Homo sapiens: one gene and its partners. The protein of the gene in region 1 purifies or fractionates together with the protein of each later gene. This does not show direct contact. Each region holds a gene or a part of one and is shown in the gene's direction. Other genes may lie near its edges.

Region 1 (3,500 bases):
CCACAACCTCAGCCTGCACAAGTGCTTCGTCCGCGTGGAGAACGTCAAGGGTGCCGTGTGGACTGTGGACGAGCGGGAGTATCAGAAGCGGAGACCGCCAAAGATGACAGGGTATGTGGGTCCAGAGCTGGATGGGCTGTACCTGCCCAGGGGGCAGGAGCCAACTCACCCCCACCCCCTACCTCTCCAGGGTACACATGTGCACCAGATCCTTCCTGGCTGGGGGAAGGGGTGTGGGGAGAAAGGAGCAGAGGAGACTAGTGCTTGGGGACAGGGGGCTGGAATCCGGAAGTGATGGATAATCAGAAGGCAGACATTTATGTCCTCTTCTGTCCTCACTCTGACTGAGGGAAGGGGCCAAGAAGGAGGCCTGGTAGCAAAGAGAGACAGGGGCCCCAAGTAGCCCTGGCCAGAGCTGGCACACAGGCAGATGCCAGCCAACGGGCCATGGGTGAGGGGCTGCCACCCCCAGGGCACCCGCTCTCTCAGCTCATCAGGATGACTAGACCTCTGAGGTCCCGCGACCCCACCAATTCATCTTACGGCAGAGGAGAGCCAGTGAGGGCCAGGGGCTGGCAGGAGGCCCCAGAGCAGATTTGTGGCAGAGCTGGTTCCAGGACCAGGTCTCTGCCCTCCTGGTCTTTTGTGCTCAGCTTCACTTCACCACCTGGCATTTTATTTATTTACTTATTTATTTATTATTTTTTTAATTTTATTATTTTATTCATTTATTTTTTTTGAGAAGGAGTTTTGTTCTTGTTGCCCAGGCTAGAGTGCAATGGCACGATCTCAGCTCACTGGAACCTCCACTTCCCGGGTTCAAGCAATTCTCCTGCCCCAGCCTTTCGGGTAGCTAGAATTACAGGTGCCCACGACCACGCCCGGCTAATTTTTTTTGTATTTAGTAGAAATGTGGTTTCACCACGTTGGTCAGGCTGGTCTCGAATTCCCAACTTCAGGTGATCCACCTGCCTTGGCCTCCCAAAGTGCTAGGATTATAGGCGTGCACCAGCGCACCTGGCCTATTATTTTTTTGAGACAGAGTCTTGCTCTGTTGCCCAGGCTGGAGTGCAGTGGCACGATTTTGGCTCACTGCAACCTCCACCTTGTGGGTTCAAGCGATTCTCCTGCCTTAGCCTCCCGAGAAGCTGAAATTACAGGCGCCCACCACCACACCCAGCTAATTATTTTACTTTTGGTAGAGACGGGGTTTCACCCTGTTGACCAGGCTGATCTCGAACTCCTGACCTCAGGTGATCTGCCCGCATCGGCCTCCCAAAATGCTGGGATTACAGGCGTGAGCTACCGCACCTAGCCTCCACCTGGCAGTTTAAACAGAAACTGAGGAGCCTGGGACAGGGTCAGGACCTCCCTTTGGCTTCCACGTAGCAGCAGTGGCCTTCTCCCGACCTCAAACAGCCCCACCCCAGCCACCTGCTTGCTGTGCCCCTTGGGCCAGAGCCCCTGGGTAAGGAGAGGAGAGCAAGTTAGATGGATGTCTCTGAGGTGTGGGGTGTCTGCTCCCCTCAAAGATGCCTGCTTACCAGGCAGGAGCCTTTGCACCCCAGGCAGTGTGCAGCCTGGAGAATGGAGGGAAGCCATCCCCTGGTGAATGCCTAGGGGCCAGTCTCCAGGCCTGGCTGCGCTTGCACCTCTGCTTCTCACCAGTTTGGTGACCTTTGGCTGTTTCCTTAAGCTCTGTGAGAGCTCTGTGATGGTGTCATCACTGGAAGAGGGACAGCCCCCAGCCACTGCTTTTCCTGTCCCAACTCCCGAACACCTTCCCGTGCAGAGAAGCCTTCTGTATGGAGGCTTCCATACAGAAGCCTCCATGTGGGACAGGCTGAGCATATGTCTGACATGTCCCAAAATCTAGGATGGCAAGACAGTGTGGGCAGACCAGGTGTGTAACTACTGAGACTATAGATTAGACCTTGCCAAACATTGGAAAATCTAGACCGGAGAGAAAACGGGTGGGGGGGCAGCATGCTGTGAAGGCAGACACTGGGGGGATGCCAGTTCCCACTTCCCAGCTCCGAGACCTGGACAGGTCCCTGAACCAAGCCCATCGCACCCACCTGTGAAGGGGCTGCTCCTGCAGGGCCAGTTGAGCGTGAAGACCGAATCAGACCAAGTACACACACAGCTCCAAGACAGCGGCTGATCCGCCCTGGCCTCCCGGAATAGGGAATGGGACCCATTCCCAGCACAGGCCGTTACTTAGTGAGAGTAAAGAGATGCGAATGAAGAGCTAAGTGAATGAGTGAGCCAAAGATGGCCTTCTCTGTCCTCCAGGAGCCCCACCCTGGTGAAGAACATGATCTCTGGCCTCAGCTATGGAGCACTTAATGCCAGCTACCAGGTGACCTGCCCAGAGCCCACCCACTCACCTCTACCTCCCGCCCCCTTGCTTTCTCATACAAGAGACCCCCATCCTCCCCTGCAGAGGACTCACCAGAGGAGGGAAGGAGGGTGAAGACCCAAACTCTCCGAGACCCCACCTCTCTGCCCCACCCCAACTCGGGGCCAGCCTCCACCTCTGCTTTCAAGGCTGGGTTCAGACAAGGCAGGCAGCTGGGAGGATGGCATACCTATAGCATCCCCTTTCCTGGTTTGTCAGTCTGGGGGTTCTCTGTTCCCTGGGAGAGGGGATAAGCCAGGCCCAGGTTCCAGGAAAGCTAGGAGGTAGGAGGTCGGGGGGTCAGAGTTCCAGCCATGGGGGAGGGGTGCTACATTCAAAGGCTGAGTTGGGGCTTGGGGGTTGCCCAGACAGATCCGCCCGTGGGGCCAGTAGGCAGACACACAGGCAGCTCTCTAGTGGGCGGGGAAGGCACAGCACTTGACTGAGTGTGCCCCATCCTGTGGAGCCACTGACGAGGCCCAACCCTGTGCCCCTGCAGGCCGCCCTGGCCGAGAGCAGCTTCCCCCTCCTCAACAGCCCTGGCATGCTGAACCCTGGCTCCGCCAGCAGCCTGCTGCCCCTCAGCCACGATGACGTGGGTGCCCCCGTGGAGCCGCTGCCCAGCAACGGCAGCAGCAGCCCTCCTCGCCTCTCCCCGCCCCAGTACAGGTGAGCACACAGCACGGACCCCCACCCACCCCAGCACCCCTCAACCACCAGGGAGGAGGCGTCATCCCCCACCCTGGGTGGGGTTCCCCATCCCACCCCCACCACGCCTCTCCCCAGGACAAGTGGCTTCTCTCTTCCTTCCCTCAGCCCTCTCAGCCCTCCCTTGTCCCACCTGCCTGTTCTTATCCCCTCTCCCCACCTCCCCACCTTCCCACCTTCTCCTCCCCATTTTCCCCCTTTCTTATTTTTCCTCCTCCTCTCTTCTCTTTTTTTTTTTTTTTTTTAAGACGGAGTCTCGCTCTGTCACCCAGGCTGGAGTGTAATGGCAAGATCTTGGCTCACTGCAACCTCTGCCTCCTGGGTTCAAGTGATTCTCCTGCCTCAGCCTCCCAAGTAGCTGGAATTATAGGTGCCTGCCACCATGCCCAGC
Region 2 (3,129 bases), on another chromosome or scaffold:
GGAGAAAGTGCCTGTAGATCCCACGGCCGATAAACTCAATAGAAATTCAGAGGTGCTAGAAATCAAAGTATTCATCACACAGAAAGGTTCCTGACTTGACTAAAGCAAGCACCCTAGTCTATTCCTTTAAACAGGACATCTCCCAGGGCATTTAAAATATACAATTTCTGCCTGGTATAGTGACACACGCCTGTAATGCCAACACTTTGGGAGGCTGAGGCAGGAGGATCCCTTGAGCTCAGGAGTTTGAGACCAGCCTGGGCAACATAGTGAAACCTCATCTTTAAATAAAATTAGCCAGGTGTGGTGGTTCACACCTGTAGTCCCAGCTACTCAGGAGGCTGAGGCAGGCTCAGGAGGATCACTTGAGCCTGGGAGGCTGACGCTGCAGTCAGCTGTGATTGTACCACTGTTCTCCAGCATGGGTGACAGAGCATGACCCTGTCTCTAAATATAAGTAAACAAAACATAAAATATACAAGTTCTAAAAACTGGATTCACACATGATCCTCCAAGAATATTATCTGTTGAACACATCTATGGCCCTAGGTCTGCAGGTCATCTGCAGGGTCGTAGGTGCCAGTGAATTTGGCCATCAGAAAGCAGGCTGGGGGCAGGGTATATAAGTCACAGCCAAGAGTGTGTGGAGTGGGAGTGCATGCTCTGAGGAGGCCTGGAGGGGAGATGGGTTTGGGGTTGAATCAAGTGTGCATCCATCACCGTTCCCCTTCTCTGCCCCACAGCCCGCAGGCTGGCCAGGTGCAGATGAGCTCCTCAGATGTCCTGTACCCTCGGGCAGCAGGCATGCCGCTGGCACAGCCACTGGTGGAGCACTATGTCCCTCGTAGCCTGGACCCCAACATGCCTGTGATCGTCAACACCTGCAGCCTCAGAGAGGAGGGTGAGGGCACAGATGACAGGCACTCGGTGGCTGATGGCGAGATGTACCGGTACAGCGAGGACGAGGACTCGGAGGGCGAAGAGAAGAGCGATGGGGAGTTGGTGGTGCTCACAGACTGATCCCGGCTGGGTGGGCCTGGCCCCTTCTCCTCTGGGGAAGACCTTGTCCCAACTCGATGGGCACAGCCAGCCAACCTAAGACTATGTTGGTACTTGGACTTGTTCGTGCCCCAGAGATGGGCAAAGCTGTGCACTTGCAGATACATTCATGAGGGGAGAGGCGCCCTCCCTTCCTGAGGAGCTGTTGGCCTGGGTGGGCAGGAACTGCAGTATGGCCATGGGCTGAGCAGGCTGAGCACCTCAGCCTTTAGGGCTTATGGCCAGGGGACACTGTATGACTCTCCTCTCCTGCAGGTGTCTATCCACCTGGGGTATGGCATCTACCGACCTGTCTCCCTGGGGTCACATGCTTTGTTTCCATTCTTGTCCTGGCTGGACCAGCCACTGTGGGACCAACACCCCTCCCACACTCCCCCAGACTGCTCGTCTATCACCAGGATCGCTTTGTACTTTGTGCAAAAGGGTCTGGCTGTCCCTTGCTGTTTTCATCTCTGCCAAGCCTATTGTGCCTCTGGCTGCTGTATGTGTGCGCGTGCACGTGTGTGTGTTTCATCTGTTCATTCACTGCACAAGATATTTATTGAGTGCCCACTACGTGCCAGGCACTGTTGCTGAGTTCCTGTGGGTGTGTCTCTCGATGCCACTCCTGCTTCTCTGGGGGCCTCTTTCTGTGCTTCTCTTTGTCCCCAAATTGCTACCTCTTTGTCAGTCTGGGTGTCTCAGGTTCTGTGTGTCCTTGTGTGCATTTCTGTCTCTCTCTGTCCTCGTCTCTCTGCAAGGCCCTCTATTTCTCTCTTTCTTGGTGTCTGTCCTTTGCCCCCTGTGCCCTCTGGATTCTCTGGGTCTATGTAGGCCCCTGGTCTGCCCTGGGCTCATCAGCCTTCCTGACCTCCTCCTGCCCTCCCCTTCACTCCCTCCCTGGCTCTGCCAGTCGGTTCCCACGGAGCCATTTTTAGCTCTGATCAGCATGGGAATGTGCCTCGGCCTCCAAGGGGCTTTGTCCTGGTGCCCCCGCCCCTGGTCCCAACCTGATCCCACGAGGGAGTTGGGACAGGAGGATTGATGGTGCTCCCCTTCCTGCCAGCGTCAGAGGCCCTGGAGAGGGGCTGTCCATGGCAGCTGGTCTTTATTCCTCCCTCATGAGCACAGGGTCGGGGGGGTCCCCATTCTTGGAAGAGGTTGAGAAGACTCCTGGGCTTCAGCCTCTCCCACCCAGCCCTGCCCCTCACCTGCCTGCCCTCCCCTCCCCCACTCTATACTAGGGACTGGATCTCAGCCTCTGATCAGTTTCACAAAGTTTGTTCCCTAAGGAAATCAAATCCCATTGTCACCTAACTCTGAAGATCTAAATAGCCCTTGGATCAGTATGGGAACCCCAAATCCCACAGGGCCAGATGTGGAGTCTGTGTCTGCCCCCGTCTTCTCTCCATCCTCAAAGCCCCCACTTCTCTCCAGGCTGTTTCTTTTTTTATGACTGTAAACATAGATAGTGCTTTATTTTGTTAATAATAAGATAATGATGAGTAACTTAACCAGCACATTTCTCCTGTTTACACTCGGGGGATTTTTTTGTTTTCTGATGACATAATAAAGACAGATCATTTCAGAATCTGGCCCTTGTGCAGGGGAGGAGGGAGGCTGGCCTAAGTCCAGAATTCCCAAATATGCCACCAGCCTGGGCACCACTGTCCCCTGGTGGCAGCCTGCAGGAGCTTCAGGCCTGGGGCCTCAGAGGAATTGGCTTAATGCAAGGGAATCCCAGGCCAAGCTTGTGAGTGACACATGCCCTCCACAGAGCCCACGCTGAATGCCCCTACCTTGACGAGGTGAGGCCACCCGGATCCTAAGAAAGAAGGCAGTAGTAAGAGCACTGTAATAGGAGTCATGAAGCTCGGGGTCTCTCTAGAACTGGCCACATGGCTGGGGTTGGGGAGTGGGAGCCAGGTCTCTCCTTTGGGGCCTCATTGTCCTCATCTGACAACAAGATTAAACCTTATACCTGGTTCTTACCATTCAGAGAAGTAGCCCTTTGAGACTCTAATGAAAGCTGTGGATCCTTTTCTTAGAAAAGGGCCCACAAAGGTTTACCCTGAAGCCCATCTGAGGCCC
Region 3 (3,500 bases), on another chromosome or scaffold:
GAAGGGGCAACAAGAATGCAAGTGCTAAATGTCTAGCCTGTCAGAAATGGAGGAGGTGTCATTTAACATGTCAACGACAGACAGATGCCTAACTTTCCCTTGGTGACTGATGGTATGCTATGCTTAGGAGAGACTCTAGATATGAGAAAATTGCCTGTTCAGCTGTCAACTCAGTTCTCAGTAGTTAGATAGCATGTGCTATTTCATACTGGTTATTGGAGCTGATATGATTTATATATTTGTATCATAATACTAGTATCATAAGACTTGCAAGTTTTAGGCATTAAATAATTTGTAGGCCAAGTAAAAGCTAGCTTATAAGACAACCTGAAACAATTAAAATATTGAATTCCACAAATGTTAATCATTGAGAAAATGCTGAACTTCTGTTTCTTATTTCATAATTCATTGCCAAGATGAGAAAGCTCAAGATTCCAAGGCCTATTCAAAAATCACTGAAGGAAAAGTTTCAGGAAATCCTCAGGTACATATCAAGAATGTCAAAGAAGACAGTACCGCAGATGACTCAAAAGACAGTGTTGCTCAGGGAACAACTAATGTTCATTCCTCAGAACATGCTGGACGTAATGGCAGAAATGCAGCTGATCCCATTTCTGGGGATTTTAAAGAAATTTCCAGCGTTAAATTAGTGAGCCGTTATGGAGAATTGAAGTCTGTTCCCACTACACAATGTCTTGACAATAGCAAAAAAAATGAATCTCCCTTTTGGAAGCTTTATGAGTCAGTGAAGAAAGAGTTGGATGTAAAATCACAAAAAGAAAATGTCCTACAGTATTGTAGAAAATCTGGATTACAAACTGATTACGCAACAGAGAAAGAAAGTGCTGATGGTTTACAGGGGGAGACCCAACTGTTGGTCTCGCGTAAGTCAAGACCAAAATCTGGTGGGAGCGGCCACGCTGTGGCAGAGCCTGCTTCACCTGAACAAGAGCTTGACCAGAACAAGGGGAAGGGAAGAGACGTGGAGTCTGTTCAGACTCCCAGCAAGGCTGTGGGCGCCAGCTTTCCTCTCTATGAGCCGGCTAAAATGAAGACCCCTGTACAATATTCACAGCAACAAAATTCTCCACAAAAACATAAGAACAAAGACCTGTATACTACTGGTAGAAGAGAATCTGTGAATCTGGGTAAAAGTGAAGGCTTCAAGGCTGGTGATAAAACTCTTACTCCCAGGAAGCTTTCAACTAGAAATCGAACACCAGCTAAAGTTGAAGATGCAGCTGACTCTGCCACTAAGCCAGAAAATCTCTCTTCCAAAACCAGAGGAAGTATTCCTACAGATGTGGAAGTTCTGCCTACGGAAACTGAAATTCACAATGAGCCATTTTTAACTCTGTGGCTCACTCAAGTTGAGAGGAAGATCCAAAAGGATTCCCTCAGCAAGCCTGAGAAATTGGGCACTACAGCTGGACAGATGTGCTCTGGGTTACCTGGTCTTAGTTCAGTTGATATCAACAACTTTGGTGATTCCATTAGTAAGTTTATTTAATTGTAAATTTATTTTTCTAAAAGATGAACACCTTCTATGTAGCTGTGAGACCTTCATTCTTTCAGTAGTGATTAGCTTTGTGGAAGAGAATGTAAGCACATAAGGCACAGGGATAAGACAGACACGCACGCTGTTTTCGCTAATAGATGAATACTGAAGGCCTAGGTAATTGTAACAAGGAATGACAGAAGAGATGGAAGTTGTCAGGCAATCATGAAGCAGGGGTTATTGAAGGAGATAGGGTGGCCCCAAAAATATTTGATTCTCCTCCATCTATCACAAAATAGAAAAGAGAATAATCATAATTGCTTTTCACATGGAGTTTAATTCTGAACTACAATCAACTGTATCATATGAGTTTGGTCATGTGGAATAAATCACTGGTAATCATTAAACATAGCGGTAGTTCTCAGGTGTTGATACTCTGTTTTCAGAGTGTCCTACAAACAATTTGCTGTAAACACTGGACTGTACCCATGAGTCCATATGCCACATGAACACTTGATCCTTGGTGCAATAGCAGTGCCCGTGGCTAGGTTGTCTTTTTAGAGCTATGTCACACATGAGGAAACGCACAACCCAAGGCCAGTCAGGAAGTGGCAGAGGTAGGACCTTTATAGCAGGTGTGGTAGCTCCTCGGGAGCTTCCTACACTCCTAGGGACTGGCTATTAGAAGAAAAGTTGTCTGGGCCACAGACGCAGTATTCGTACTCCAGGCTGTGTTTCTGCAGGTGGCCTATAGCGGTGGGGCATGAGGCTGTCGATAAAATAAGGTTTGTAACATCAGTCTCAGTATTCCACCAAGCTTCCTAGTGGGGAAGCATCACTTAGGCAAGGGATTTACATTAACTGGTGGCTCAGGAAAATGTGTGGCCGGGACTGGGCTCCTGTGAATTGACTCAGAACCACCTGGAGGAGTTTTTACAGCTCATGCATTCTGGTCACTGGGTGGCTCAGGCTGAGACCCAAGTGCATGTCTTTAGAGAGTTCTCTGGCTGTCGTCCCCCTACTCTAAGGTGAAATCTGCTGCTGCAGACTCCTCCTTTCTATGTCCACACATAATGTTTCAATGTTTTAAAGAAAGCCTCTGTACTGTCCAGTGGCAACTTGACGTCTTAGTGGCCACTCCCGCAATCCTTTAGGAACTCTTAGTAGCTTAGCTTCACCAGGATTGCAAGAATAGAGGCGTGCTGTAGGTACTGTGTTTCGATGACTTTTCACTTGGTTTGTCTTTAATGCTAACGTGAAATAAATCACTAGTCTTGGTATGTTTTTTCATTGCTCTTTCCACATTTGTATCCGTTACTTTAGATGAGAGTGAGGGAATACCTTTGAAAAGAAGGCGTGTGTCCTTTGGTGGGCACCTAAGACCTGAACTATTTGATGAAAACTTGCCTCCTAATACGCCTCTCAAAAGGGGAGAAGCCCCAACCAAAAGAAAGTCTCTGGTAATGCACACTCCACCTGTCCTGAAGAAAATCATCAAGGTGAGTTGAACAAGCAGCATCCCATTCACGCCCAGTGGCTCACACACCGGGTACCTATTCCTTTCCAAATACTGACACAAGTAGAATTATGATGAAGACCTTTATTTATTTATTAAAGAAACAAGTTTTTAAAAAGACGAATGAAAGCTCATTGATGTGGGCACCAGCAAAGGAGCCCCTGGGTCCCTGACCGTGGTGCTGATGCGACCGAGTCGGGGGAGTCCTTGATGTTGTCCTTTTCGTGCAGAAGTTCCCAGACACCCACGCTTACAGCACTGCGTAATCACCTGCAGGCACCGTCAGAATAGCCAATTACAAAGATTCTGGATACATTACCACGTCGACCCATAAGGATTGTTTTATTTTCTTTTAGAGTTACAAGGCTATAGTTAAGGCATTTACCTGGTGTGAAGGAAAATCAATGGCACATCTTCCTTTTACACCTTCAGCTCTTTAGAATATTTGCTTGCCTGTTCCTTTGCTGTGTTGTCCTTCCTGGGTTT
Region 4 (3,706 bases), on another chromosome or scaffold:
GCTTGTCTTGCTAGGAGAGGAGGATGGGGGGCTGAGCACTCAGGCTGTCCATTGAAACCCCTTGTCCATGAATAGGGTCATACTCCTAAGACTGATGGGGTGTTGATCTTCTAGGACATCACTTGTTTATTCAGTGCCCCAAACACAGATTTCTCTTCTAGCACTTTAGAGTTGATCCTTGAAGTCTCTCCTGGTTCATTCAAATACAAGCTGTGTGAGTCTGGTGGTTTTCTGTGATTGGTCTAATGTGAGCTCTTTGAACAGACAGATCTGACAGTGAATGACTCTCCCCTGCTTCTGGCATAACTGCTTTGCCTCTGTCTAGTGTCCAAGCATCTTAGCTGTTCAAGAGGAGAGGGCAGCATAACTTCCTGACCACCGGTGTCAGATATCAGAGCATTCTGGACTCCTGAGAGGCAGTGGCCTCTTGAGTGAACAGGGGAGGCCAGTAGATGCCCCAGATCCAGAGCCGTGGCTGCAAATCCAGCAGGAATAAGGAGGGACAACCACAGCCTCCTCATCCATGTGTCATTTCCAAGGGTTTGCCTTGTGTCTCAGCTCATTCTGGGCAGCACGTTTGTCTTCTGTCCCTAGAGATTTGAAGGATTTTGGACTCTTGTGAATGGGTGACTGGACTTGGCTTTACAGAGTTGGGTGCTTTTTTCTCTCTGCAATTACCTGTCATAGCATTTTGTGCTCACCACGAAGGATGGTCTCTGCCTTCTCTTGTCGGTGTATGCCATCTGAACCTAGGAACACAAAGTATATTGGCCTCAAACGGAGACCCAGGGTTGCCAGTTTTCCGTGGGCCTTCCCCTCCCTTGAAATGTCTTTAATTACCTCCCCTTCATCGTCAGGCCACGTGTGACTTCTGTTCTTAGCACTGCCAGGGTCATTGACTTCCATCTAAGCTTGCATCAGGAAGATGTTCCTTCTGTGATCATTGGTACTGAAGCCAGAAAAGCTCTCATTCAGGAACTCTGAAGAGCAAAAAGGGACAAACACTAACTGCTGAGCTGGGCCATTTGATCTCCTTTCACCTTGCATTGCTGTCACAGCACCTTGTATGATGGCAGGACAGGCTCCAGCAGAGAGAACTGCACAGTGACCACTGTATTTTTCACGCTCTTCCAGGGATCCCTGTCCCCCGACATTGAAGAGATCTCATTCAGGCCAGAGACACAGAGACCACATAGCCCAGTGATTAAACCCCGGTTTCACTCTGGCCCCAGGAGTGGAGCCTGGCCACTCCTGTTTGGTTCTCACTGGGAGGCCCACTGGCCTTGGATCATCTCCTCATGCACACCCGGAGTTTTACCTGCTTGCTTGCTTTCCTGGACTGCTGTTTGCAAGAAAGTAACTAAAACATGAAAAGTAAACCTCCAGCTTCCACAGTATATTACCTGCCGTTGCATGCATTTGAAAGTTAGCCTCCTCCCTTGCCACCGTCTTGGTGGCAGTAGCGATGCAAGAATGATGGGAGCTTTCCGAGAGCGTTCAGTGTTTCACTGAAGACAGGACCCATAGCCTTCATTTCTGGCTCTGTGTCTCCTCTGGCATATGGACACATTTCCTGGCATTTGCCTGAGTCTACACCACTTTTTGAGAACCTGAAATAGAAGGGAATCTTCTGTGGCCCACAGTCTCCATATTGGCACTAGAAGACTGGCCTGGCGGAGGAATTTGCGTTGGCTTGCTTTCAGGGGTTAGCTACAAGATTCAGCTTTATATCTCTGTTGCTTCTTGGCCAGTGTAGTCAATAAGGGTCTTCTTTAACATCTAAGATAGAGGTTTGGTTGGCCGGGCGTGGTCGCTTACTCCTGTAATCCCAGCACTTTGGGAGGCCCAGTGAGGTGGGAGAATTGCTTGAACCCAGGAGGCAGAGGTTGCAGTGAGCTGAGATTGCACCACTGCACTCCAGCCTGGGTAACAGAGTGAGACTCTTGTCTCAAAAAAAAAAAAAAAAAAATCTAAGATAGAGGTTTGGTCAACAGTGCTTAATAATAAATAAGAACCTCCTGCCATTCTAATTTTCCTGCTGCACCCCATCCCCCACACACCCCTCACGAACATTGATATAAGCAGTATTAACACAGTATAAAGAATGTTCACCTTGCATATGTCATTTCAGGCACATGGATTCAGGAGAAGCACAGTTGAGTGGAAGAAATGGTAGACTTGTGAGGCTTGCCCCAGGCCTTGTGTACACGCAATAAGTGGTGAGCCATGGGTCTCTCCGTCAGCGCCTCCCTCCCCGCCACCACTTCAGGCCAACAATTTAAGGTGCTGAGTTGTAAGGCTCCTCCATTGTCAGTACAGGGCTCGCCTTTGTAGCCCTGATCACTACCAGTACACTTTTCAAGACAACTGAGTATTTTTGTATGCCTTTGCCTTCCCTTTGTCCATGAAACATGAAGAGTTGTTTATGGTTCTTGACTTCTCTGAGCAGAGTGTCTGCATCTCTTGGAGAGTTACACATTTCTTCATGAGCCATTTTTCTCATTCTTAGATGCACCTGTTTTTATCCTTTGCAGACCATCTTCTGCCTTCTTATTTTCCTGTCTGTCAAAGACAGAAATTACAGGAGATAGGGAGGGTTTTTTAGCATCTCTTTCAAAAGATGTATGTCAGAATTTCCTTTGCACACCAAGAACTGGAGCTTAGAGCCCCACTATTCTCTAAGCCAGGTTCTAGTGCCTTACACTCCAGAATGTCAGATGGTGGGTGCAGATTGGAAGAAAGAGAAAAGTTCATCTCGGTGTGTGGGTTCCCATCCGCCCCACATAGCCTCTCCTTCTTCGGAACAATGGGCGTGGGGTAGAAAGCTCTTTCAGTGAAGGGTGTTCTAGCAGCTCAGTTAACACTTTACTCTCCAGTCAACACTTGGGACATATAAAAATGCCATTGTAACTACTGTAGAGTCCTGTGACTCATCGTTTGTGTTTGTCAATTTGCAGTTCAGCTTAGCCCTTCCCTGTTCCTGTGTAGTTACAATCTGGCCCTGAAGACATCCGAGGCACTTCAGTAAGTGGGATCTTTTCTAGAGATCCTGGGTGACTTTGGGTGCACAGGGTGACCGAGCATTTCTGCCCCTGTGAATGTGGCACTAACACTGTGCACTGTCTCCACCAAGCAAGGTTTCCACTGAGTTTCTTCTCATGTTACTGGGTTTGTAAATGAATAAACACATTTTAACTACTCTTGCACGGCTGCTTGTGAAATGTTCTTCATCTGTAGTGACTTAAATGTGTTTGCCACCACAAAGCATAAACAGCGTGCAGAGGAGAGTGTGTACCTCCCTGTGTGTACCAGTGTGAGGGAGGATTTGGGGACGGGGGTAGAGAAGATGTAGGTGTTTATCTTACCCTCCCTGCAGCGCTGGAGTGGCTGGGGGTAAAAGCTTCCCGCCTCCTGAAATTCCGACCGGCCTTCTGCCTACAGCTGACCTCAGGAGGAACCTGCCACCTGATGTTCCACACGGGCACGTGTGCACTCAGGTTTGTGTGGAAAGCAAGGGGGGTCGTGTTCTCACCCTGTGGAAACAACCCTGAGAGAAACAACCAGTGCTCTTTTTCTACACCAGCTTCCATCCACAAGTTGGTCCCTGGACTTGACCTGTTCACTAATTTTTTTTTTTGAGGCAGAGTCTTGCTCTTTTGCCCAGGCTGGAGTACAGTGGTGTGATCTTGGCTTACTGCAACCTCCA
Region 5 (3,500 bases), on another chromosome or scaffold:
CCTTCCCTCTTGTTTTCCTAGACACAGTGCCAACATAAACCTACATCGTAAACTGTTGACCAAAGAACTCGATGACATGGGCCTGGACTCGTCGCAGCCCTCCCTTAGCAAGGACCTCCGCGATGAATTTTTGGTGAAGATATATGGTGCCCAGCACCCCATGGGGCTCGATGTCAGGGAAGACGCCTCCTCTCCCGCAGGGACTGAAGACTCCCACCTGAACGGGTATGGGAGAGGCATGGCAGAGGACTACATGGTCCTTGACTTGAGCACCACCTCCAGCCTCCAGTCCAGCAGCAGTATCCATTCCTCCAGAGAATCCGACGCAGGCAGCGATGAGGGGATTCTTCTCGATGACATTGACGGGGCGAGTGACAGTGGGGAGTCGGCACACAAGGCCGAGGCCCCTGCCCTCCCTGGCAGCCTAGGGGCTGAAGTTTCAGGATCTCTTATGTTCAGCAGCTTGTCTGGGAGCAATGGTGGGATCATGTGCAACATTTGCCACAAAATGTACAGCAACAAGGGGACCCTGAGAGTGCACTACAAAACTGTGCATTTGAGAGAAATGCACAAGTGCAAAGTCCCAGGTTGCAATATGATGTTTTCCTCTGTACGAAGCCGAAATCGGCACAGTCAGAACCCTAATCTCCACAAAAACATTCCCTTCACTTCAGTAGATTAGTCTCAGAATGGACACTACAAATGCCAGCTCTCACCAGATGGCCTACGTGTTTGAACTGCCATAGTCAGTGTGCGCTTATGTACTTGGGGTGTGTGTGTGTGTGTGTGTGTGTGTGCATTTATGTATGCTCTGTGGCTACATATACACACACGTATTTCCTTGAGATAAACAAGATAAACACTAGGTGCTTTTGAATTTTTTTCACTTCCCTTTATAGTTTTGGGAAAGGAGTGGGATCTTTGATTTCAGGGTGAAAACAGAGTACCCCTTTAAACACACACACACACACATGCACATACACACACACACACACACACACACACAGTGTGCAACTAGCCCCAGTTTTGACAGAATAATTCTTGGTCTTCCCCAAAGAGACAATTTGTTGTACCCATGACTGTTGCCTGCAAAAATAAAAGGGAAAAAAAAGAAAAAAGAAACAAAAAGGAACTTCTTATAGTTGTCTTTTGTGAACTTTAAGGTTTTGAAAGAATCTTCAATTAAAGCATGGCAGATTCACCTGTAAATATTTAGCCTTGAGGGGCCATTGATGTAAAACAATTGTATTGATGGTTGTTTAACTTTTTTGTTTAATTTTTACAGTTACATCCAGCTGTTAGATATGCAGGAAAAGATAGTTTGCTGGCTAGCTCTATTCATTTATGTTAGCATTAATGCACATTTTTAAAAAAAGAAAAAAACATGGTCTTGTTTTTACTACCTGTTAGATATAGTGCTAAAGAGGTGCTGGCATGCTTTACAGCACAGATCTGATTTTTTAAAATGTCCTGTACTAGTACATAAATCCCGTCATGCACTTTTTTTCATACACTACAAGGGGATGTGTAATAACCATGCTTCTTTTTTATCCTTAAACTATTGCCATACTTCAGTAAGTGTCTTTTTTAAAAAAAATTCACTTGTATAAAAATGGTCTGGTCAGTATAGGGCACAAATGCCAAACAAAGTATTAGTGTTAACACAAAACTGCCAACTTTGCACAAGTTTCCAGAAAAGAAAATACAATTAGTCACTCAACATAACCACAGGCCAATTTGTTGGCCACCAGAAAACCGCTTTTTAAAAAAACACTTGGTGATTCTTTCAAGTGCCGAATGTTATTAGAATCAACATTGCATCCTTCTTGCTTATACGTTAAGTTACATAAAAGGAAAACAAAATTATGTGGTGTGAAACAGCCAAGGCATTTATTCTTCAGAGGCAGGATAATATTTCAGGATACAAAAGCCCAAATTACCCGCTACGGAACAAAGATGAATACAGTAAAAGAGTCGAACACTCATTTCCAAGGCCCTAACCCTTATCCTTTAAAAAGAAATCCTCTGAACTGGGTCGGTCTGTTGTATGGCTGTCTAATTTGTTGCAAATTCTGCAGTCGTACTATAATTCAGGCCTGTTTGGTAGACAAAATCAAAAGGCATTTAACAGCAGCAGTACTTGGAAGCTTTGAAAACATGTGCTAAACTTGAATGGAGCAACACTCCTTTCTGAAAAGCCAGAAGAAGGGGGTTTTAAAGCAGGATCTCTCAATGTTCAGTGTTTTGTGTTTCCCCACACGATTTGTCAGAGAGAAATGAAAGCAAGCCTGAAACCAAGCAATTGAGAGTGAGAAAGAGGAGAGAGACTATTCTCCAAACCTTTTTTGTTTTGTTTTGTTTCCGATGTTTACACATGTTGCCTGAGCTGGTTAACCACATCGGCAGCCTCAGCTACCACAACATACTGACTAAATGATGATATTTACTCAAGTTCAGTCTGCAGCCAAAACCATTAGGGTGTGCATTGCAGACTGTTTTGTTGTCTTTTTTTTTTCTTTTTTCCTTTTTTTTTAAGTGGAGGGGAAAAGAAGAGATAAACAAGGAATATTTTGTCAAACAGTACACAATAATTTAAAGAGAATGTATTTCTTTTTTGCATTTAATGGCCTCAGACATTTCTTTCATCAGTCTAAAAGTTAGAAATATCCCTTTATTTTAACTTTTATGTCGTTTCCATTTTTCATGTTTTTGTAATTATTTTTTCTATGTTCACATCAGCATTCACTTCCGTTAAATTTGCCAAAGGAAACTGTTAATATGTTTCTGTTGTTATTATTCCTGTAGGATTTATTGTACCTCACAGTATTTATTGTTTCCCAAAATAAGCATCATTAGTTGGGGATTCAGTATTTTTGTTGTGAAAATTTCAGAAACAATAGATTCTTAAAGATAAGCTAGCTATGTCTAGGAGCTTTATCTTTTCACCTCCTTCAGAGGATGCTATGGGGTCCATTTTAATTCTTCATTTGTTCTACGGGGAGGAAAGACCAAAAGTATTTGCAGTACAAAAGAAACTATATCAAACACTATGTTAAATGACAAGTGTTTATGGTAAAAAGCTGAGGAATTAGTAATAATCGTTTTTGTTTTCTTGTACTTTGAATTCCCCAAAGTCTTAATTGCTTTATTTTGGTGTTGTGTTAAATTGAACAGACAGATGTTTTCCTTTGTTTTATACCATATAAGACTCTGTACAGTATGTTTGTGAAAGATTGAACTAGAATAATGAAAGTTTGTTTGCAAACATTTTGGTCCTCTCAGCGTTCTCTGTGTTGTGCTGTTGCCCCATTACCAAATGGTTAGATTCAAAAAGGGTGGGAAAAGATTTTTAATATCCCAACAAAACATTATAGAAACTCTGGCTTTTGCAGTGTGCATAGACTACATGTAGTTTTATGAAAATAAATACACATTTTTATTTCAGCAACTTTGAAAAGTTACACTCAGTTGAGTTACTAGAACTCATCTTGTACAACAGC
Region 6 (3,933 bases), on another chromosome or scaffold:
AGCTGGGATTACAGGCGCACACCACCATGCCCGGCTAATTTTTGTATTTTTAGTAGAGACGGGGTTTCACCATGTTGGCTGGGCTGGTCTCGAACTCCTGACCTCAGACCTCAGGTGATCCACCCCCCCCCCCCCCCCCCACCCCACGGGCCTCCCAAAGTTCTGGGATTATGGGCGTGAGCCACTGCGCCCAGCCTGTGTTTTTCTTTTATAGTAGCCATCCTAATGGGTATGAGGTGGTACCTCATTGTGGCTAAACCATGTACGTTTAAGAATTTACACACACACACACACACACACACACACACACGTGATGAAGCTGTAAGAAAAGGGAGAGAATAATGACCCAAAATGTCAGCACAAGGATGCCTCAGGGGTAGACACAGGTGTCTTCTTAGCGCCTTTTAGCCCACGCATATGTGCTTGCGCAGTCTCTCGGTGTGTTTTCTAACATTTCACAATTAAATAAGGAGTAGTTGATATTCACAGCCACCATTTCCACCGTATATGTAGAGAAAAATGCTCAAATCCTAGCGATCAGCCCGCTGAGCTTTCACAAACCGAACACACCGTGCGGTCACGAGGCGGCTCTCCCGAACACCGGCTCTGCACCCCCAGGGCCCGGGGAACCAAGACTTCCCCAAGGGCCCAGCAAAAGTGAGGGAGGAGGGGAGGAAAGGAGGGAGAGGGAGGGAGGAGTGCTGGCTGCTTTCCGCCAGCGCCTCGTTTGGGTTTCGCTCTGCTGAGGCCTGAAGGCGCCCTGAGGGCCCCTGGGGGGCAGGGAGGGGCGGTGGCTGCGGCCGACAGCAAGGAACCTCCGGAGAAGCGAAGCCGGGCCAGACGTGCCACCGGGGCCTCGGCGCTGGCGAAGGGGCGCGTGCGGCCGCACTGGGGCCAGCCCCGCCCTGGTCCCCGGCCACATCCTCGAGACCACCGGGGTGGAGGGGGGGGTCTCACTGCTCAGGGCCCGCGTGACATTGCACAGGTTTAGAAACGCACAGCGGGAAGGTGGCCCCGGCGGGCCGAGGGCGCAGGATCCCTGCTCCGTCCAGGGTCCGTCCTGCGAGGAGGCGCCGGGGGCGGGCCCGGGGCGGGGCGGGCGGAAGGCGCGCGCGGGGCGGGGCGGGGACGGCGACGCGGCGCAGGCGGCGGGAGTGCGAGCTGGGCCCGTGTTTCGGCCGCCGCCATGGCCGCGGTGGACCTGGAGAAGCTGCGGGCGTCGGGCGCGGGCAAGGCCATCGGCGTCCTGACCAGCGGCGGCGACGCGCAAGGTGGGCGGGGGTCCCGGCCGCGTCGCGGCGCAGGGGGTGGAGGGCGCCTCCGCCCTGGCCTCTCCGGAGCGCCCGCCGAGCCCCGGGACCCGGGTCTCGGGCCGGCCCGGCCTCCCGCCCCGGCCTCCCGCCCCGGCCTCCTGCCCCGGGTCTGTCCCCCGCTCTTCCCCGGCGCGGTCTCCGGCCTACGTGCGGCCGGCCACGTTCTCGGCCTCCGCCTGGGTCTTGGCGCCGCCCGCGCCCTGCCCCGGGGGTGTGTCCGACTCTGGGCCGCGGGGCAGGACCTCCCGAGGAGTCCCCGAGGCCACGCGAGCGGAGGGCGCCGGTCCCGCCACCCCCAGAGCCTGGCCCTTCCTGGTTCTGAAGCGACCCGGGGACCCGGTGCCTCCCGAGGGCCGGCGCCAGGCTGCGGGCTTCCGGGACCTCCTCCCGGCTGGGCGGGGGCGGACTCACTCCCGGACCGCGCCTCCTCCTCGGGGCCCTCGCGGCCGCCTTCCTTGTGGGTCTAGCTGGGGAAGAGGGCGGTGGGGAGATGGGCTGCCCGGGGCATTGAGCAAAGCCCAGTTGTCACCCTTTTCGCAGGGGTACTGGGGAGGCCTCAGGTGGTGGGGACTGGGACTTGGCAGAGCTGGGTGGGGGTCCGGCCTGAGGGCGTGGTGTCCTCGCACGCTCCCTCCCGGAGGCCTGGTCCTGCCCACTGCCGGCCTCCAGTGTCTCTGGCCTGACATGTCCAGTGTGGCACCTGTGGCACAGGACGCCACCTACCCTACCCCTCAGGAGGAGAGAGGAGAGGATTTAGGAGACCAGAAGTGAGGTGCTGGGTTGGGAAGGGGCCCAGCCAGCACCCCAAGGCTGTGCAGCGGGGTCTGGTCTGTCTTTTAGAGTTCAGAAAATGGTTGAGAAAATGCGGACACACACCCCCACCCAGCTTCAGGCACCTGACCCTCCTTTTCCCTATCTGGAAGCCAGGAAGAGGCGAGAAGGAAGCCGGCCTTGAGTGGGACCAAGCCAGGGAGGCAGGAGTGGCTCGTGGGTGTCACTGTCTGAACCCCGGCCTGCAGAGGGGGCTCCTTCAGACCTGGCTGAGCCAGGCCTGTGGTGGCTGCCCACCCGCCCTTTTCACAGCTGTGGCAAGAGCGGGAGCTGCTGCTTGTTGCCGGCTACTGGCAGTGTCCTGGAGCCAGTGTGGCTCCACAAGTCCTGTCCTGTGTGGCTCTGGGTCACGCCTTTCCTGTGGGCCAGGGGTCCGTGTTGTCGAGAGGGGAGGGCGTTGTTCAAGGATGTCTTTTTGCACAATAACCTGTGCAAAGGTAGCTAGAAGACTTGAAGCAGGCCGGGTGCGGTGGCTCACACCTGTAATTCCAGCACTTTGGGTGGCCTGGTGGGTTGTGGGCCCAGGTGGGAGAGGAGGCCCGTGGCCTTGGAGGGTGAACTCGGGAAGCTCCATCCCATGAGATTAGACAAGAAAGGCCCCGAGTCTGGAGGGCAGACAGGTTGCTGTGGGGCCAGCCCGCCTGCCCACCAGGGAGGCGCTTTCTTGGTGAGGCTGGTGAAGCCCCAAAGCCCACCTGTGGTTCCCTGAAACACAGAGGGTCCCCAACCAGCTTCCTTGTTTGCAAAGTGGGAGCATCAGCAGTGGAGGGTTGGGAAAGTTGAGAGCCTGGGGTGGCACGTGCCCCCCCCACCCCCTGCCACCCCATGCACAGACTAAACAGAGAAGGGGGGCTCGCTGGAGGTTGCTGAAGGGCCAGCCTGGCAGGTGGTTCTTGGGCCAGCGGGGAGGGGCACCCAGGGTGACAGGCGGTTCTGGATGCTGGTGGAGGATCTGGAGATGGGATGCCCCTCCTGGCCCTGTGGACAGGCCGGCTGGGTGGGCCTCCCATCTCTGTCTGAGCTGGGGGTTCCAACTGCTCAGCCTGGCCCCAGTGCCTGATATGGAGTGGGCAGCGCTTCCTGGCTGCAGCTGGGAGGGTGCCCACAGTGCACCTGCTGGCCGATCATGGCATCCCAGTTGGGCCTGTGCCTTCCTCTGCAAATGTCCTCCCTTCCCAAGCCCCGTGCAGCTGCAGCGTCTCTGTATGTGAGCTCCCATGCGTGGACAGGGAACAGGTGGTTTTCTGCAAGGGAGGAGGACTCCACACACTTCCCCAGTTCAGGGCTGGGGCTGATTCATGGAGGATGATCTGGGGCGAGTAGGATGGGAGGAACTGACATTCTGGGCAGAACCAGAGTCCTGTTTCATGAGTTCGGAAAAGCAGTCTGCAGGGCTCTCCCAGGCCACCACTGCTGCTGCCGTGTGGCTCCCCATGGTGGGTGCTCTGTTTTCCTTCTCGGGGCCCCACTGCCTTCCTAGAAAGGCTGACCCTGGCCGAGGGGAAGCCTGTGGCATAGTGTGCCCTTCTCTTTGCCCTCTATGTCAGCCGGGCAGCAGGAGAGTGGGGACTGGGAGGCACTTTCTGCCCCAATGCTGAAGTCTGCGTTTGTTGGATGTATGGAACAGCCAGCCTCACCATCCTGCCAGTGTTGCCCAGTCCTGGGACTTCTCGGGCCTTGATTTCCCCTTCTGTGAAAGGGGGTTGGGGACAAGACAGGCCACCTTGCAAGTTCCTTCCAGCCAGCCCACAAGTCCTGTCCTGTGTGGCTCTGGGTCACGCCTTTCCTG
Region 7 (3,500 bases), on another chromosome or scaffold:
TACAGGCGTGCACCACCACTTCTGGCAATTTTTTGTATTTTTTAGTAGAGATGGGGTTTCGCCGTGTTGGCCAGGCTGGTGTCGAACTCCTGGCCTCAAGTGATCCACTCACCTTGGCCTCCCAAAGTGCTGTGATTTCAGGCATGAGTCATCACACCCGGCCAAGAGGCACACTTTTAAATAATACATGGTATAATCTTATTCTGAATGGTCTTATTGATGACAGATCTTTTTACTTTGAAATTTTGATTTTTAGAAATGCTGAAGGTTAGTCAATATCAAATAGAGTGAATGAAAAATAGTTTTGCCTTAAATCCAGTTAATCACAGAAACGGGAATAATTTTCTTGGTTGACTTATTAGCTGATTTTGAAAACACTCCCAAGGAGGAAGTTGGAAATATTTTGAACAGGGGTGATAGCTTCACATGTAGTTAGTTAGGCACTACATAAATGTTGGTTGAGTGCATCAGATGGTTGGATGGATGGAGTGAATAAATGAGTAAGTGGTAGCCTTCCAAAGTAACTTATTTTAAAGAGGACCATACTGATTTGAATGTGTAAATAAATTTTTTAAAAACTCATTTTTCTCAGATGAAATAAATTCTGAGTATGTTTGTTAATAATTTTATTACCTTGAGCAAGATAGTTTAAGTTCACAAATGAGTTTTACAGACAGTAAGTGCTGTAGGAGTTCAGGGAATGGAGAAATGAACATTGGCTAAGGTTTGGTGAAATGATTTAAGTGAACCATACTTATATTTGAAAAGATTCCTTAGGGATCTCAGAGAGGAACTAAATGACTCCAAATTCCTCTTGCAGCCCTAAAGTGAACCTAGAGTCTGGATCTATTTTTGTCTGAATGCTTTCTGCCTGTTTCATTTTAGCTACTCCTACTGGTTTGTTCCTTTCAGATTCACATTTGTTGGTAGATGTTGAGCCCCCTGAAACAACTATGGGGTCTGTTTTCCGTCTTCGTATAGTGTAACTTTTAGTTGTTCTTTTATGAGCCTGTACCCCACAAATTACTTGGCCTTCATGAGAGAAGAGCATGAGTCAACTTGGCCCTGTTATCCTGGCATTTTCCTGCATGCTTTTCTCAAAGCTGCTTTCTGAATTACGGAATAGAATAGACAGAACTGAGGGCATGTGTCCAGTAGACACGAGCTTGTTGAATGAATGAATGAATGAATGAATGAGATATTTGAGATAATTTAGGAGATCTGAATTGTCTATATGTTTTATGTTTCTTTTTCATTTATTCATAACCTGCCTTTTTCTACAAAGGACTTAACAGGGCTGCCAAACTATATGCACTAGCAATGAATTGAAATAATTCAATAAATCTGGTTAAAGAGATGATGAAGAAAAGAAAAATCTGTTTAAAGAATATAGATCAATGTGTATCGGTGTTAGAGAACTAGGAATAAGGTAGAAGATAAGCAGATGGGGAAGGAAAGGTGGTATCTGATAGAAAGCATGATTCTGAAGGAGGGAAAAGATTACTGAAATATGACAGGCTATCTTTGGAGGAAAGCATGAGAAGATGGAGGGTAAAGAGGATTATTTGAGACGGCTGTTTTGAGGAGGAAGATGGTAAGGCTATTTGAAGGATAAGAGTCAACAGAAGTTTGGAATATAGTAGAAGTTATTAAATTATGTTGATTTATAACAAGGTTTCAGAAAATGATGGGATGAGCTTTATTTAACAGATAATGCACATTTGTTATATGCAAAAGCATATAATGCTTTGCTGTCAGGAATAAAACCTTTGGGATTTATATTGTGGTAGGGCAGCTGGACTTGTGCACAAATACCTGTACTATAATCACAAATATATCTGTGAGTCACAAATATACCAAATATTACTGAATTTAAAAGGCAGAAAATGCATTTGATTAGGAGAAAACCTGAGACAGAACTTTAAAGGCATAAAAGTGGAATTTTAGCTAGTCTTTGAAGGGATTGATAAGATTTTTTTTTTTAAGTTTTGGATTGATAGGATTTTGATTGGCAAAGATTACTGAAAGAGAGCATTCCTGCCTGAGAGATTAGCGTAAGCAAAGGCTTGGAGGTGAGAAGCCCAGGAGATGTGGGGAATGGTGAGTTAGGTTTTAATTTTTAAACTATGACCTATAGTAAGAAATACATGTCACACTTCTATCTAATATATGCATGTATGAATGTTTGTGTGTGGGTAAAACAAGAAGTTTCATAATACAGTAACTGTCCTTAACAGTGGCAGGTGCAGTTGGATGTTATCTATTTTGTTTGACTAAAAAGAAAAAAAGCTGGCCAAGGGGGAAGAAAAAAAAGCTGATTGTCACTCATTAAACTGATTTCATGACCGACAAAATAATTAATCACAATCTATAGTTTGGAACGCAGAGAGTTCATGAATAAGGTATAATACAAGGTAGGAGAGTCAGTTGGGGTTGGGTTGAAAATGGATGGCCTTGAAAGCTAAGCTAAGTAGTTTGTATTTGATATGATGTAGTGTTGTGCTTGGTAAGCAAACAGAAGCTGGGTTTTAGTCTTGGCTCTTCTGTTTACCCACTGTATGATTATGGAGAATTATTTCCTTTCTGAGTTTCCATTTTCTCATAAAATTGATAATCATACTTTCCTGGCAAGGGTTATGGTGAGGATGTGAGAATTAAAGTATGTTAACATATGATTAAAGTATGTTAGCAGAAATCATTAGTGTATAGCTGTTGAACTTTTCTGAGTAGAGAATTGAGCCAAGGACCGTATATTAGATAGCTGGCAATAGCTATACCTTACTGGGTAGATTGCGGGTAATGTGGTGGTAGAGTAAGATTGTATGTGAAAAGACCAGTTAGAAAACAAAAAGACCAGTTAGGTGGCTACTGGAGATATTAAGAAGGGCTTGAATTAGTTTGATAGCAGTAGGATTAGAATATGGAAGTGGAATGCAGTTGGAGGTAGGGAAGAGGGGAAGATGACTAGAAATATGCTATTTATTTATTTATTATTGAATGAACGAACGTGAGGCTCTTGATCTGTTGCCCAGGCTGGAATGCAGTTGTGTGAACGCAGCAGCTCACTGCAGCCTCTACCTCGTGGATTCAAGTGATCCTCTTGCCTCAGCCTTCCGAGTACCTGGGACCACAGGCATGTACCACCACGCCTGGCTAATTTTCAATTTTTTTTGTAGAGATGTGGTCTCACCATGTTGCCTGGGCTGATCTCAAACTCTTGGGCTCCAGTGATCCCCTCCCTCAGCTTCCCAAAGTGTTGGGATTACAGGTGTGAGCCACCATGCCTGGCTGACTGGAAATTTAGAGTTGTAGAAATATTCAAATGGCAGCAGCTGAAATTGGATTATATTTTTGGGTAGTTTAGTGCAGTACATTAGAGTATAATTTTAGTTTCTTTCATGTAGTAGGTGCTCAATTATTTGTTGAATGATAGAAACTAAATACGTGGACTGTGGGATGAATTGTGAGTAGAAGCAGTGATGGGTGGATGTGAGAAGGAG

Evidence for each region.
Region 2: the proteins of FOXP4 (region 1) and SOX13 purify together in Homo sapiens (affinity purification with mass spectrometry, with the first as the bait; one study listed by BioGRID). This does not show direct contact.
Region 3: the proteins of FOXP4 (region 1) and MKI67 fractionate together in Homo sapiens (co-fractionation; one large-scale study listed by BioGRID). This does not show direct contact.
Region 4: the proteins of FOXP4 (region 1) and PDPR fractionate together in Homo sapiens (co-fractionation; one large-scale study listed by BioGRID). This does not show direct contact.
Region 5: the proteins of FOXP4 (region 1) and BNC2 purify together in Homo sapiens (affinity purification with mass spectrometry, with the first as the bait; one study listed by BioGRID). This does not show direct contact.
Region 6: the proteins of FOXP4 (region 1) and PFKL purify together in Homo sapiens (affinity purification with mass spectrometry; one large-scale study listed by BioGRID and IntAct). This does not show direct contact.
Region 7: the proteins of FOXP4 (region 1) and ZNF148 purify together in Homo sapiens (affinity purification with mass spectrometry, with the first as the bait; one study listed by BioGRID). This does not show direct contact.

The regions. Positions count from the first base shown.
Region 1 is NC_000006.12:41,594,881-41,598,380, forward strand, and holds part of FOXP4 (forkhead box protein P4), read left to right. Parts: coding exon 1-111; intron 112-2,295; coding exon 2,296-2,362; intron 2,363-2,900; coding exon 2,901-3,070; intron 3,071-3,500. UniProt on the Homo sapiens protein: Transcriptional repressor that represses lung-specific expression.
Region 2 is NC_000001.11:204,125,115-204,128,243, forward strand, and holds the end of SOX13 (transcription factor SOX-13), read left to right. Parts: intron 1-743; coding exon 744-1,020; 3' UTR 1,021-2,629; downstream 2,630-3,129. UniProt on the Homo sapiens protein: Transcription factor that binds to DNA at the consensus sequence 5'-AACAAT-3'. Binds to the proximal promoter region of the myelin protein MPZ gene, and may thereby be involved in the differentiation of oligodendroglia in the developing spinal tube.
Region 3 is NC_000010.11:128,112,924-128,116,423, reverse strand, and holds part of MKI67 (proliferation marker protein Ki-67), read left to right. Parts: intron 1-416; coding exon 417-1,496; intron 1,497-2,821; coding exon 2,822-2,997; intron 2,998-3,500. UniProt on the Homo sapiens protein: Protein that associates with the surface of mitotic chromosomes and acts both as a chromosome repellent during early mitosis and chromosome attractant during late mitosis.
Region 4 is NC_000016.10:70,159,332-70,163,037, forward strand, and holds the end of PDPR (pyruvate dehydrogenase phosphatase regulatory subunit, mitochondrial isoform 1 precursor), read left to right. Parts: 3' UTR 1-3,206; downstream 3,207-3,706. UniProt on the Homo sapiens protein: Decreases the sensitivity of PDP1 to magnesium ions, and this inhibition is reversed by the polyamine spermine.
Region 5 is NC_000009.12:16,416,171-16,419,670, reverse strand, and holds part of BNC2 (zinc finger protein basonuclin-2), read left to right. Parts: intron 1-21; coding exon 22-682; 3' UTR 683-3,500. UniProt on the Homo sapiens protein: Probable transcription factor specific for skin keratinocytes. May play a role in the differentiation of spermatozoa and oocytes. May also play an important role in early urinary-tract development.
Region 6 is NC_000021.9:44,298,920-44,302,852, forward strand, and holds the start of PFKL (ATP-dependent 6-phosphofructokinase, liver type), read left to right. Parts: upstream 1-1,133; 5' UTR 1,134-1,186; coding exon 1,187-1,271; intron 1,272-3,933. UniProt on the Homo sapiens protein: Catalyzes the phosphorylation of D-fructose 6-phosphate to fructose 1,6-bisphosphate by ATP, the first committing step of glycolysis.
Region 7 is NC_000003.12:125,365,326-125,368,825, reverse strand, and holds part of ZNF148 (zinc finger protein 148), read left to right. Parts: intron 1-3,500. UniProt on the Homo sapiens protein: Involved in transcriptional regulation. Represses the transcription of a number of genes including gastrin, stromelysin and enolase. Binds to the G-rich box in the enhancer region of these genes.